Linked DNA regions of Homo sapiens. The protein of the gene in region 2 interacts with the protein of the main gene of each other region in a pairwise test. Each region holds a gene or a part of one and is shown on either strand. Other genes may lie near its edges.

Region 1 (3,500 bases), on a different chromosome or scaffold from region 2:
ATGAGCCAAATAAACCTCTTTTCTTTACCCAGCCTCAGGTATTCTTTTACAGCAACATAAATGGACTAAGGCAGAAGTACAGTACTGGAGAACCTGAAAATGAAAATCAAACAAGGCTGCCAACCTTTGAGCAGGAATCAGTGCCCATTCTCAGTCAATACAATCAGCCACACCATAAGTACACCCGCTGACCAAGAGATGTGTGTAAGACAGTATGAATCTCAGAAGTAGATTAAAAAAAAAAAAAAGTCTCTTGAGCTACTTGCACTTGACCAGAAAAGAGGTTGGGCTGGGCCCACCGAGGAAGCATAAAAATAAAGATGAACAGAAAATCTTCCTATTCTAATGTCCTCAGCACAATAACTAATAACTGATCCAAACAATAATTGTGCTGGGTAAAAGTATGGGCCAGTTTGTCTGAGGCATGACAGTCACCAGGTTAACTACCTTATCTCAAATTCAAAAAAGGAAGAATAGGTTAACTTGATGTCAAATAAACACAGTGCACCAAACTCTGTGGCAGACGCTACCCTCAGAAAACTGCTTAATACCATTGCTTAATAGAGTTGGCTCCACTGAAAAACCATCTCCAATCTTTCCACCTGGGCTGCCAAGTGATAAAACAAATATTAGAAAAGAATCATGCTCCTAAATCTTAGAGAATATTTATGAGAGTGAATGGGGTGAACAAATAAAGTCAATGGTAGAAAAACAATATGCAAGCCACTTCCTTGTTGCCCCAAGCAAATCTGTTGCTTAAACAATAACAACGGAATCTAATCAGTAAACCTCCCAGCTGCCAAAATTATACAAGCAACTTTACTATTTAAAATGTCACATTTCCCATCTGATATAAATATTTGCCTTCTGCTCACATTCCTGAAGTGTAAAACAAATTAGGCCCAAACTAAAATTCGCCTTGGCACCAACTATTTAATTTCTTTTCCCTTTAAATGACCCAGATTGTGCATTATGAAAATTGTAAAGCCCTGGTGGCCTTTTCAGTAATTAGAATAGATTGCTGAAGCCTAGGTTGATTTTCAGCATAGGCTTCACACATCATTCTATGTGTGGGAAGGTCTTGACGAGTTCATTCAAGTCTTGGTTCAGCCTCAGTAATCTTTTATACACAAATACAAGAAGGCTTGTTATCTGATTTCTGGAAAAATCATACTAGTAAGATGTTTTTATCAATATTTTAAAATAAATCTGGTAATTGAAAAATGTAACTTGAAAAAAATATTTAAAGAAAACAATGTGAAAATACTGAAGAAGGTAAAAAGGCGATTTAAAAGATTGACGGGCCGGGTGAGGGGGCTCACACCTGTAATCCTAGCACTCGGGCGGGCGGTGGGGCGGGGTGTGGCCGAGGCAGGTGGATTGCCTGAGCTCAGGAGTTCAAGACCAGCCTGGGCAACACAGTGAAACCCTATCTCTACTAAAATACATAAAAATTAGCCAGGCATGGCAGCATGCACCTGTAATCCCAGCTACTTGGGAGGCTGAGGCAGGAGAATTGCTTAAACCTGAGAGGCAGAGGTTGCAGTGAGCTGAGATCATGCCATTGCACTCCAGCCTGGGCGACAGAGTGAGACTCCATCTCAAAAAAAAAAAAAGATTGACATAACAAAAATCAGATCTGTTGGCTATGTTGGTTTATGTCAATATACAGAGTTCTCATACTGGTAAGAAGTGAAAAATTTAAACCATCACAAAAGCACCCAAAACATGTACTTTTGTGCCCTCTTATGAAATTTATTTTATATTGCATATGTATTACATGCAGACTAGAACCATTTGTCTCCACGTGTTATCCTCAAATTAATTATATTAGAATCATTGGGGGTGTCGGTTAAAATGCAGATCACCAGATGCCACCAAAGACCTTCTGAATTAGATTCTCTATTGGGAGGGAGATCCAGAAATCTGCATTTTTAACAAGGTTCCCTCCCCCAAATCACCCAAAACCCAAAACAGTGTGCTTCCTCTACAAATGTAGCTTCCTGACAAGTCCTTAGCTCTCCCTTCTAATCCAACTGGAGTCCCTTTGCTGCTCTCATTATAGAAATTCAGAGCCACTCAGGGTATTAAAGTTAGAGAACCTCTCCCTGGAGGATGTGATCCCTCTAGACCTCTGATCTCACTTAAACCAAATAAGTAAAGAATCTGCAACATCTGCTGGTTAATAGTGTGCTTGAGAAGCAATCCCTTCACGGAGTAGTGTGATGCTTGAAAGCAGAATAAAAATGTTCATTTCTTCCAATTACCAAAACCTCTCAAATTCAAGCAGCTGAAGAAGCTAGAGTAGAGGTTTATACAACCAATGTACAGATAGTCACCATCCCTAAACCAACTTTACCTAGTCACTTTAACTTCTGTCTGATTATAAATAAGCCATCCTCCCCCAACACTAATGACCATAAAACATGTTTATGACCACCTAAAGACAGTAAACAATAGTTAAACATCAACAACCAAACCTCCGTGGAAACTGCCCCTTCTGTAAAATTAGGCATTGACTTTGATATATTCTTGCATGTTAAATCAGGAATGAGTGTTTAAAAAAAAAAAAAAAAAACTTCCTGATTTTGAACATATTTCAAACATCCTTCGAGAAACAAAGGATACCTATGCCTATCCAGAAATGTTAACTAGAAAGAAAAAAGTTTTCCTCTAAATAAACATCAACAGACTAGCATGAAGCCTTTTTCAATCCAGCCCATGTGGAAAATGCCTCAGAAGAAACATTTACAATATATCTTTAGTATTAAGGGTTTAATTTACATAATAAATATTTTTAAAAGCAAAAAAATGGATTTTCTTTTATTTTCTTTAGAATAGTTCACTGAAGCCTGCATAGATTTTCAGCCTAGGCTTTGCATCTTATTCTACATGTGGGAAGGCCTTGACATTAGTTCACTCAAATCCACTGAAACTTGGTTCAGCCTCAGTAACCTTTAATACCAGGCAAGACAGCCTTATTTTTGTGATCAATTCTGATATTTTTATGATTTTTATGATTAATAGGTATTTTATGTGTCCCTCAAAAATAATTTCAGTTTACAAGACTGTACCTCTAGGAAACAGAGTTGACTTACAATGGCTCCACTTGAGACAATTACCTAAGAATCAATCCTGTGATGAATTGTTAAGGGGGAGAGCACATCTTTATTTCATTTAAGACCAAAGGTTTCACAATCTTCAAAAAGCTTTGACCTTTCAGGTGAAATTTTTGTTACTGAAAAAAATAGCTCACAACTTTAGTTCTTCCTGTCTTAGGAGAGGTGGAGGTAAGAATTGCCAAAAACAGGAAAGCTGTCTAAAGCCTTATTTGTAGTTTCTAGAAAGAGGTCAGGTAGTATAGAAAGGAAATAGAAAGCATACCCTCACTCATTTGGGGTTTAATCTCTTCATCCATGTCCAAATCTTCTAAATCTAGGAAATTATCTACCTAGAAAAAAGAATTAACATAATTTTTAAGCAGAATAGACCTAAAGAAA
Region 2 (2,663 bases):
CTCATGATCTGCCCGACTCGGCCTCCCAAAGTGCTGGGATTACAGGTGTGAACTACTGCATCCGGCCATCTTTATTCCTTTCTAAGAATGGTTTGAGGCCAACCCTGTCTTCCTCAAAAGCTAAACAAATGTGTTCTTACATAACTTGTATGTAACCAAGTCTCCTAGCAGATGATGTTGGTTAGATAATAGAGAAAACAATTTGAACAGGTAGGTATATATGGATATAATAAGTAAAAATGATAGGTGGTAGCCTTGTCAAAAATCTGCGTTTTTAAGAGGATGTTAGTAACCCAAATCTGTGTTTCTCGTTTTGGTGTTGGGAGTACTTGTTAGTCCTGCACATTTGCCAAACTGATACCCGAAAACTATATTGTCTTGGTTTCATTTGTACCTGACCATACAAAATGATAAAAATCCCAAGTAACTAATAAGCATGATTGACTTTTTGTAATTGTTAATATTAGTTGTTAATCATTTACTTGATCCTTATTTACATATGATATGCAAAATGTTTAAATTTTATTAGAGACAATTTGAAATTTGTGAATTCTAGGTATTTGAACATTTTTCTTTGAATTGGGAAACGACTCATTTTGGCAGTAGTTTGCTGTACCCAGTTTTGGGGGCGCCTTGTGTTAAAACCAAATACCTACTGAACTTAAAAAAGAGATTATTAGTGAGGTAACATTGTGTTAATGTATGTGTTTGTTTCCTGGTTTTTCCTTGTCAAAAGTTTTCCTCCTCTACTAACATGATGCATTCGCCCAGTTTTTTCATTTCATTAGCTATTTTTTGAGTTTGTTTTGCCTGATTGCATCTTACTGTGTTCACTTTTGCATACTTGATGTCAAATTTGACTTTTCGGGAGCATCATCCCAATAATGTCAAAAGGGAAGGAATAGGATCTGAACTTTTTAGGTTAGAACTTCTGAAGTTTAATTCTACAGCACTTGTGAGCATTTATTTCTCTTTTGGGTCACAAAACTTGGAATGGGATTTGGGTATTTGAGTAATGGGTTAAACATATATATTGATTAGTTCAGGAATTGAGTGACTTTAAGATGCTTATCAGACACTTTTAGAGATCCCAGCAAGAGGCAGATTCGGTTTCTGGTTTCATAGAGTTTACAGTCACTGAACAAGTCTTTAAAATAAGTAGCAAATTCTAAGTTGGGGATAGGTGAGGCTTCTTGGGTAGACACCCTGTCTGTGTTCCCGGCCAAGACTTGATGATTCTGATAGATGTACTGGAAATGCTGGAGAAAGACTCAGGCAAGACTGGTGTTTTTGCTGCTCTCTCTAGTTTACCACACTGGCTTTCAGAATTGCTTTGGGACCAGAATCCAGGCCACCAGGGGAAGGGCTAGGCTGTGCAAGGGGAGCAGTCCTCCCCTTTGTAGGTGCCATTTCCCAGAGCTCCTGGAATTGTTTCTTCAGTTGTGGCAGCTGTGTAGATCATTTTTGTTTTATCTGTAAAGTTAAAAAGGGTTACAGGTGTAGAGAGAGAACAAGAGGAGTGAACAATGAAGCTTGTTTAATCTGGAAAGTACAAAAATACCAACTCAGCCCTAGAGTGTGCTAAGTATATATTTTCCATCTCTGTCGTCTCTCCCATGGTTTACTCTTTAAACTCACTTTCCCCTCAGTCTCCCTAATGGTAGTACTAGTAGTAAAAGTCCTAATGAATTAGACTATTGTGTCTTCATCATCACTTCACTTCTAACTTCGTTATACAGTAAAACAACAGGAGATGAGTTTATGTATGCAAGGTCTGTGTTGCATTCAGGGAATGAGGAGGCAGGCAGGAAAGATCTTCGAGAAAGTCTAACCAAGAGAGTTTCCAGTTCTTCCCTCCAACCCCCAATTGATCTACCTCTTCTTGTCCGTGGTGTAGGCGGTGATGCAAATTTGAAGATAGCTTTGATTCCTGCACCTTTCTATACAGATGGGAGAGTTCTCTATACAGAGTTGTTCTCCCATCAGGTGCAGGAATGAAAAGTATAAAAACTTGACAGATTCCTCCCCCCTGAGAATAGCTTCTTGGGGCCATTAGGTCCAAAGAAATACGTTGCTTTGATTTAGTGTTTCCACTGGGGTCTTCTGAGATACACTGTGAGGAAAGTTCTTTTCAAGTCTTGAGAGCTAAAGATCCATAGAGTATTGTCCTTTGAGGTCACTTCAGGTCTTTCTGGTACTAAAACCTCAAATCTGGGAATTTGGTTGGTCTAGAAACTTCTGTGCACTTTTTGTAAGAGGGCAGCAAATCTCTTGCGTTCCTCTCAGATAAGCATCAGAGTAGATTCTTTCTCACAACTCTACTGTAGCTTTGAACCAAAGCTTCTAAAATGGTTCTAGTGTATGGTCAGCCTGTACTTGTTTCGTGTTGGCTGCTTGGCAACCTAATTACATCTTAGCTAATTGCAAAGGGAGAGAGAATCGGCATTTGCTTGCTAGTATAATGTAACAAATTCCAATAGGGAAAGTTGTGTATTTCTCCTAGGGTGTAAATCACAGTCCCTAGGGTCTAGAAAGGTTTTGAAGGGGACTTCAATTCATGGACATGAAGGGACAGTTGAAGGATTTGGGTAGGTACTTAGGAAGAATATACTAATGTTGAGAGTTATAATGAAATGTGTTATAAAGTGGGTTTGAATGTCCTG
Region 3 (3,313 bases), on a different chromosome or scaffold from region 2:
GCCAAAGTCATCGTTACTCAAACACATCACTCTGCAGTTACACGGCTGCACGCTACCGTCATGTAAACTCTGGAATACTGACGTGGACCTGACCACCCGCTGAGGTGAAAGGCTACAGCAGGGTGAGCAGCTGCCCATCTCTGTAAATTCCACCCTCAGCGATGTCCTCTGCGGAGTCTGGCCTGGTGGGAGAATAAGCCCAGGAAAATGGGCCCATGTAGCACATCAGGAATTAAACAGGGCGCAGGTCGCGGTGCACATAGGCCTGCAGGCCACGTTCCTGCCCCTGTGACCCGCACTGTCCCCTCTGACAAGCTCAAGTGCACAGCATCAGCTCTGTTTGCTGCAATAGCCTCTGCCAAGGAAGGTCCAGGAAGAAGCCCAGAGGCCACACAAGGTGTTTCCACAGGGAGGCTGTAACCTCAGGAGCTGCTCAGAGGCAGCACCGGTTCATGGGAAAAACAGGCGGCAACTACAGGAAGCAGCTGGCACCCGTGTGAGGACCCAGGGAAGAGGCAGAGATGATCAGAACCTGGAAATCTGGAGGGTGCCCCAGGGACCAGCCAGCCAGAGCTCTGGGCAGCGTGGGTGCTGCTGGGCTGTGTGGAGCGGGTCTGGGAGCCGTCACCCAGGTGGGCCTCCAGGGGAAAGGGCCATGGCTTCTAACTCCACCGTCCAGGTCTCTGCTATTGGCATCCCACAGCCCCCTCTTCTGTCAGTGCTCCCAGAGTCCCCTTTCCTGGGCCTGGAGGGCTCCTTTGGGGCAGGCAACATTGGCCGCCAACCCTCTGACCTGCACCAGGAGACACGGGGACCTTTAACCCCCAAACCCGCATGGAGCAGGACTGCAACCCCAGCAAAGGACAAGGGATGTCAGCAGATGAGGCCTGTGACAAGTGAGATGAGGGCTTTTTTTTTTTTTTGAGACGGAGTCTGGCTCTGTTGCCCAGGCTGGAGTGCAGTGGCACAACCTTGGCTCACTGCAAGCTCCGCCTCCCCGGTTCACGCCATTCTCCTACCTCAGCCTCCCAAGTAGCTGGGACTACAGGTGCCCGCCATCACACCCGGCTAATTTTTTTTTGTATATTTAGTAGAGACGGGGTTTCACCGTGTTAGCCAGGATGGTCTCGATCTCCTGACCTCATGATCCTCCCACCTCAGCCTCCCAAAGTGCTGGGATTACAGGCGTGAGCCACGGCGCCCGGCAGAGGTGAGGGCTTTGGGGAAACGGTTGTGGGGCCTGGAGTGTGGAGGCGTCAGCGCAGGCCTGGCAGGAGCCCTGAACCGGGACAGTGAGGTCCTGCAGCTGCTGGCCTGGGGTGTGGAGACTCCCAACACAGGGGAAGTCTCCAGGACCCCACACCACTAACAAGATGAGACTTGTGCTCCTTTGGGCTCTAGAGAGGAAGCCCCTCTTAGCCCTCAGCCCCTCTTTCCTCCCTCTCCTAAAGTAATTTGATCCTCAGGAATTTGTTCTGCCCTTATCTGGCCCTGGCCAGCTCTGCATTTGACAAATGCCAGGAAGAGGAAACTGTTGAGAAAACGGAACTACTGGGGAAAGGGAGGGCTCACTGAGAACCATCCCGGTAACCCGATCACCGCTGGTCACCATGAACCACATTGTGCAAACCTTCTCTCCTGTCAACAGCGGCCAGCCTCCCAACTACGAGATGCTCAAGGAGGAGCAGGAAGTGGCTATGCTGGGGGTGCCCCACAACCCTGCTCCCCCGATGTCCACCGTGATCCACATCCGCAGCGAGACCTCCGTGCCTGACCATGTGGTCTGGTCCCTGTTCAACACCCTCTTCATGAACACCTGCTGCCTGGGCTTCATAGCATTCGCGTACTCCGTGAAGGTGCGTATGGCCCTGGCGGAAATCCAGGGGGTGCCGGTGAGCCTGGGGCTCCACCTGCCCACATGCTGCCTGGGGTGGGGACTTGTGTGTCCCTGTGACTGTGAGTTTGTGTGCACGTCTGTCCTGTGTGTGCCCACGTCAGTGGCTTTGTCTGTGTGATCTGTGTGTGTGTGTGGCTTGGGGAATCTGCCCAGTGCAGGTCTAGGAGGAGGCTCCAGGAGGCTGGCTGGCTGGCTCAGAGTCTGTCCCCGGCTATCCACTAGCCCAGAGCAGTTCTCCCTATAGCCCAGTAAGAAATTACACCTTCACCTTCCAGACTGGCACCCAGGCTCTCCCAGAAAGTGAGAAGGGAACTCACAGGTGACTTCACCCCATGGTGGGGAGAACAGCCTGTGCTGGGGCCAAGGCAGAAGGAGGATGAGCCCCGAGGCTCCTGGAGAGTCTGAGCCGGGTGAGGAAGGGGAGGAGGTGGTCCCTGATCTCAGGGCAGGGAGGAGACAGTGAGGAGCTGGAGCCATAGCACGCGGCTCTCAGCTGGGGGATCCTGGTCCCCTCACCATCTCCTCTCCCCCAGTCTAGGGACAGGAAGATGGTTGGCGACGTGACCGGGGCCCAGGCCTATGCCTCCACCGCCAAGTGCCTGAACATCTGGGCCCTGATTTTGGGCATCTTCATGACCATTCTGCTCATCATCATCCCAGTGTTGGTCGTCCAGGCCCAGCGATAGATCAGGAGGCATCATTGAGGCCAGGAGCTCTGCCCGTGACCTGTATCCCACGTACTCTATCTTCCATTCCTCGCCCTGCCCCCAGAGGCCAGGAGCTCTGCCCTTGACCTGTATTCCACTTACTCCACCTTCCATTCCTCGCCCTGTCCCCACAGCCGAGTCCTGCATCAGCCCTTTATCCTCACACGCTTTTCTACAATGGCATTCAATAAAGTGTATATGTTTCTGGTGCTGCTGTGACTTCACCTGGGGAGCGGTCCTGCTGGTTCTGAGATTAAATGTAATGCCAAACGTTCTTGCCTTAGCCACACCAAAGAATTGGGTGTGGCGGCTGCCCGCGGCGAGTGATGGAGACACAGACCAAGAGAAGAAAAAAACTGTAGGTTTTATTGAGCAGAGTGACAGTACAAAGCTTACACAGCATGGAAGGGGTCCGGAGAGGGTAGCCACTGTTGGTTTTGGGTGATTGCCTTTTAATCTCTTTAAGGCGGGAAATACATGTGGTGGGAAGATGTTACCAGAGAGAGAAACAAAGGCAGTAAATTATTTTGTGACATGTCTTAGATTTTGAGGAAAAACAGAATTGCAACTTAGGTTTTATCTAATTTTATCTACTTTATGACCTTGCAGCAGCATGGCAAAAGAGACAGGATTTTACAGGACTTTACAAAGTATGTTCACAAGGAATTGGAATTGGGAGCATAGATAAGGTCCGCTGGTCACAGAAAAA
Region 4 (3,500 bases), on a different chromosome or scaffold from region 2:
AATGCTCCAATTATGCCATAATTCTCATTTTATATACACATACATACACAGCGTATTATTGTACTGATGGTTTACACAGTCCAATTTCTGGAGCATTTCCTTCAGCTAAGCCATGACCTTTACTTCCTTTGAAGTATTTTAAATTAAGAACTGTTCAGAAATATCACTAATGACTACCATGACTAACTCCAAAAAGGTGCCCTTTTTTCTTTTATTTATGATCAAATGTAAATGTGTCATGAATAAACTTATTTTTTTCTATGGCAGCAGGTATAAGTAATAGCAAAGTATAGGCTACTTTTTCAACACTAGAATCTGAGAGTTTGATATACAGTATGTAACATTTCTTTGCAAATTTTCTAGGAGTTCTATCACTCAATGTTTCCAAAATAGTAATATGGCAAATCTTCAGCATGGAGTAGTAGTATCAGAAATGGGAAAACAAACAATGCTAAGAGGCCTGAAGGAAGGGAGGAGAGCAGAGAGGGAGGGAGGGAGGATGTGTGCCCATGCATTTTCCCTGATGCAGACAAATGTGGAGTTTTAACATTTACCATATGGTAGATGAGGAGACAGTGTGATATAAGAATGCTTAAAGCGAACATACAGGTCTGGATACATGATATGCACACAAAATACAAGGCTAATGAGGCAGCAATGGCTTAAATTTGTGAATGCCAGTGAAGAAAACACCTAACAGTATAGGCACTAAAGACAAAATGGAAAGCACACAATGGAGAACGGAGGAGAAAGATGCAGTCACACAAAAGACCTCTGGGTAAGAAAGGGCCAACTTGTCTTGCCACATGTGGGGGATGAAAGATAGAAAATTCCTTTTGGATTTAGTTTTGGGGCTCATGTTCTATTCATCAGAGCCATGTCAATAACTCGAAAGGGTCATTCCAAGACACAATTTCTACCAGGTACACAAGCTATGCAATTGATGGAATCATAATAGACTTCTATAGATGAATCAGAAGTCCAGGCCTCAAAAAGAAGCTACTCTTAACGGTTTGCAAATGCGTTCTAGACAGCACTCTTATTGGCTTATCAGCTTCGCCGGTTTACCAGTTACTAAAAGATATATGAGCAATGAAGTTTAAACACAGCTTTATTCAATATTGTCCTCTTGCCTTTCTAGAATTTACAAAAGCACAGGTCCCTTTTCACTACCTCATTCAATCTGAATCAACATAAGAAATGCTGGATCTAATTAGCTTTCACAACTCAACCATAGCTGAGTGTCTTCTCCTGTCTTATCTGCTGCACACCTGTTGCTATTAGTTACATTAATACACTGCTACACCTTCCAGCCAGATGGCAGGGATTTAGTAGGTCTTTATTTTTGTTAGGTATAGTCAGACCCCTTGCAAGGGACTAAGTGTTAAAGGAAAATAATGGCGGAAGAAAGAAGCAAATGATATATATGCATCTACACACTTGCATCCTTAATGGAATAGATCCTAGAGAATGAAATAAAATAACCACAAAATAACTACACTAGCTACTGCTAAGTGAGGAAATATGTAGGAAAAGAAGTGAGCTGTCATATTATGAAACTCGACTTTCATTAGGTCCCTACATAGCCATGCAAAAGACTACAAAATGAAATAAAGATATGAAAACATATTAAGAATATTCCCCTACCAAAAATAGAAATCTCTCTAAAACAGACAAGTAAGTAAACAACACACAACTATTCTACTTCCTATTGCCGACACAGGCAATAAGGAAAGGGGAGGATGGGAGATTTGTCATACACTGATCCTCGATTTTCATTAGGTACCTATATATCCATGCAAAGGACTAGGTACAAAACCAATAACATGAAACATTTATATACATCTTTAAAAAGTATAGACACTGTCCTTTCCCCCTGACTATTACCCACCCAAAGAACCCCTCCCCATAAAAAAAAATTAAACAATAAAAAACCCAAGATATGAAACTATTGCCCCTGTAGGCAATGAGGGAAGGGAAACAGGAGAGTTATCATACGTCTGGACCTCCATGTTTCATTATGTACATCCATGTCCCAGCAGAGGACTGGGTACCACATTATATAACACACAGAATGTAGCAAATATTTATATACATTAAAATGTGTGTGTATAGTATATAAATATGTGTGTTCTTGTGTGTATATACACACACATATACACTCAGACACCCCCAAAAGAAACCAAACATCTATTCTACCATTGCCCCCTAGGCAATGAGGGATGGGGAGTATGGGATATTTTTCATAGAGTCAATCTCAACTTTATTACTATTAAGTACCTAAGTGGTCATACAAAGGACCAGATTCAAAATGAAGTTAACATCAAAAAGGAGCAAAACATTTATATACATTAAAAAAATTATATATCTTGCCTTTTCCTCTCAACAATCCCACTCCTCATTAAAACCCTCAAAAGCAAAAAACCAAAACCCAAGCCCTGTAGTGCTCACATACTACTTGCTTGTGTATACAGGCTCTGAGGAAGGCAAAGAATATTTACCACACTCTCGGGTCTGGGTCCCTCATTACATTTGATTCCTACAACTCCAAACAAAAAACTGTGTTGAGAGTGAAAGAACAACAATAACAACAACTAGCAAACTTTTATATACATTAAAAAAAAGACAAACCCAGAAATTCCCCACCTCCCCTACCAAAAAAAAAACAAAAAAACAAAAAAACAAAATCCCTTAAATAACTACTCTACTGGCCATTGCCAAGACAGGCAATAAGGGAAGGGGAGAAGGGGAGATTTTTTCATAGAATGAACCTCAATTTTCATTACGTACCTAAGTATCCATGGAAAGGCCTTGGCACACAATGAAGTAACAGGAAAAAGGAGCAAGAACATTTATATACATTTCTAAAAGTGCACACCCCATCCTCCTGGAGATAGGCAGATGGATAAAAAAGAAAAACCATCTATACTACTCTATAATTATTGCCTACAGAGGCAATAAGGAAAGGGGAAAAGAGGAGATTTTCATACATCCGGACCTCCACGTTTCATTAGGTACCCGTAAGTCCAAGCAATGGACTGGGTACAGCATGAAATAATACAATATAGTTAATGAAAAGTATATATACATTTTTAAAAAGGATATATTCTGCCTTAGACCCCTCCCACCCCTCAAAACTTAAAAAAATCCAAACTACTTTAAAATTATTGCCCATATACATTAAAAGGGTAAAGGGAGAACAGATTGTTATACATCCATAACTCCATGGCTCATTAGGAACCTACACATCCAAGTGAAGGACCGGGTACCCAATGAAACACTATAATAAAGAAATAAAAATATGTACATACATATACAAAAGTATATACCCCAACACCCACCAAAGAATCCCTGAAGCTAATCAACTACTCTCTTAGACACCTGCCCACACAGACAATCTAAGGGAAGGGCAGAAGAGGAGAGCTGCTACAGGCTGAACCTCAATTTTCTTCATATATCCATGTAAAGGACAAGGTAAGAAAGGTAGTGACAGAAAAGTA

Evidence for each region. The genes of interacting proteins can lie anywhere in the genome.
Region 1: the proteins of SLC10A1 (region 2) and IFTAP interact in a two-hybrid assay, tested with the Homo sapiens proteins (one large-scale study listed by BioGRID and IntAct).
Region 3: the proteins of SLC10A1 (region 2) and IFITM2 interact in a two-hybrid assay, tested with the Homo sapiens proteins (one large-scale study listed by BioGRID).
Region 4: the proteins of SLC10A1 (region 2) and LNPEP interact in a two-hybrid assay, tested with the Homo sapiens proteins (one large-scale study listed by BioGRID).

The regions. Positions count from the first base shown.
Region 1 is NC_000011.10:36,636,002-36,639,501, reverse strand, and holds part of IFTAP (intraflagellar transport-associated protein), read right to left. Parts: intron 3,452-3,500; coding exon 3,385-3,451; intron 1-3,384. UniProt on the Homo sapiens protein: Seems to play a role in ciliary BBSome localization, maybe through interaction with IFT-A complex.
Region 2 is NC_000014.9:69,774,916-69,777,578, forward strand, and holds the end of SLC10A1 (hepatic sodium/bile acid cotransporter), read right to left. Parts: intron 1,474-2,663; coding exon 1,367-1,473; 3' UTR 501-1,366; downstream 1-500. UniProt on the Homo sapiens protein: As a major transporter of conjugated bile salts from plasma into the hepatocyte, it plays a key role in the enterohepatic circulation of bile salts necessary for the solubilization and absorption of dietary fat and fat-soluble vitamins.
Region 3 is NC_000011.10:306,583-309,895, forward strand, and holds IFITM2 (interferon-induced transmembrane protein 2), read left to right. Parts: upstream 1-1,233; 5' UTR 1,234-1,610; coding exon 1,611-1,856; intron 1,857-2,430; coding exon 2,431-2,583; 3' UTR 2,584-2,813; downstream 2,814-3,313.
Region 4 is NC_000005.10:97,033,580-97,037,079, reverse strand, and holds part of LNPEP (leucyl-cystinyl aminopeptidase), read right to left. Parts: 3' UTR 1-3,500. UniProt on the Homo sapiens protein: Release of an N-terminal amino acid, cleaves before cysteine, leucine as well as other amino acids. Degrades peptide hormones such as oxytocin, vasopressin and angiotensin III, and plays a role in maintaining homeostasis during pregnancy.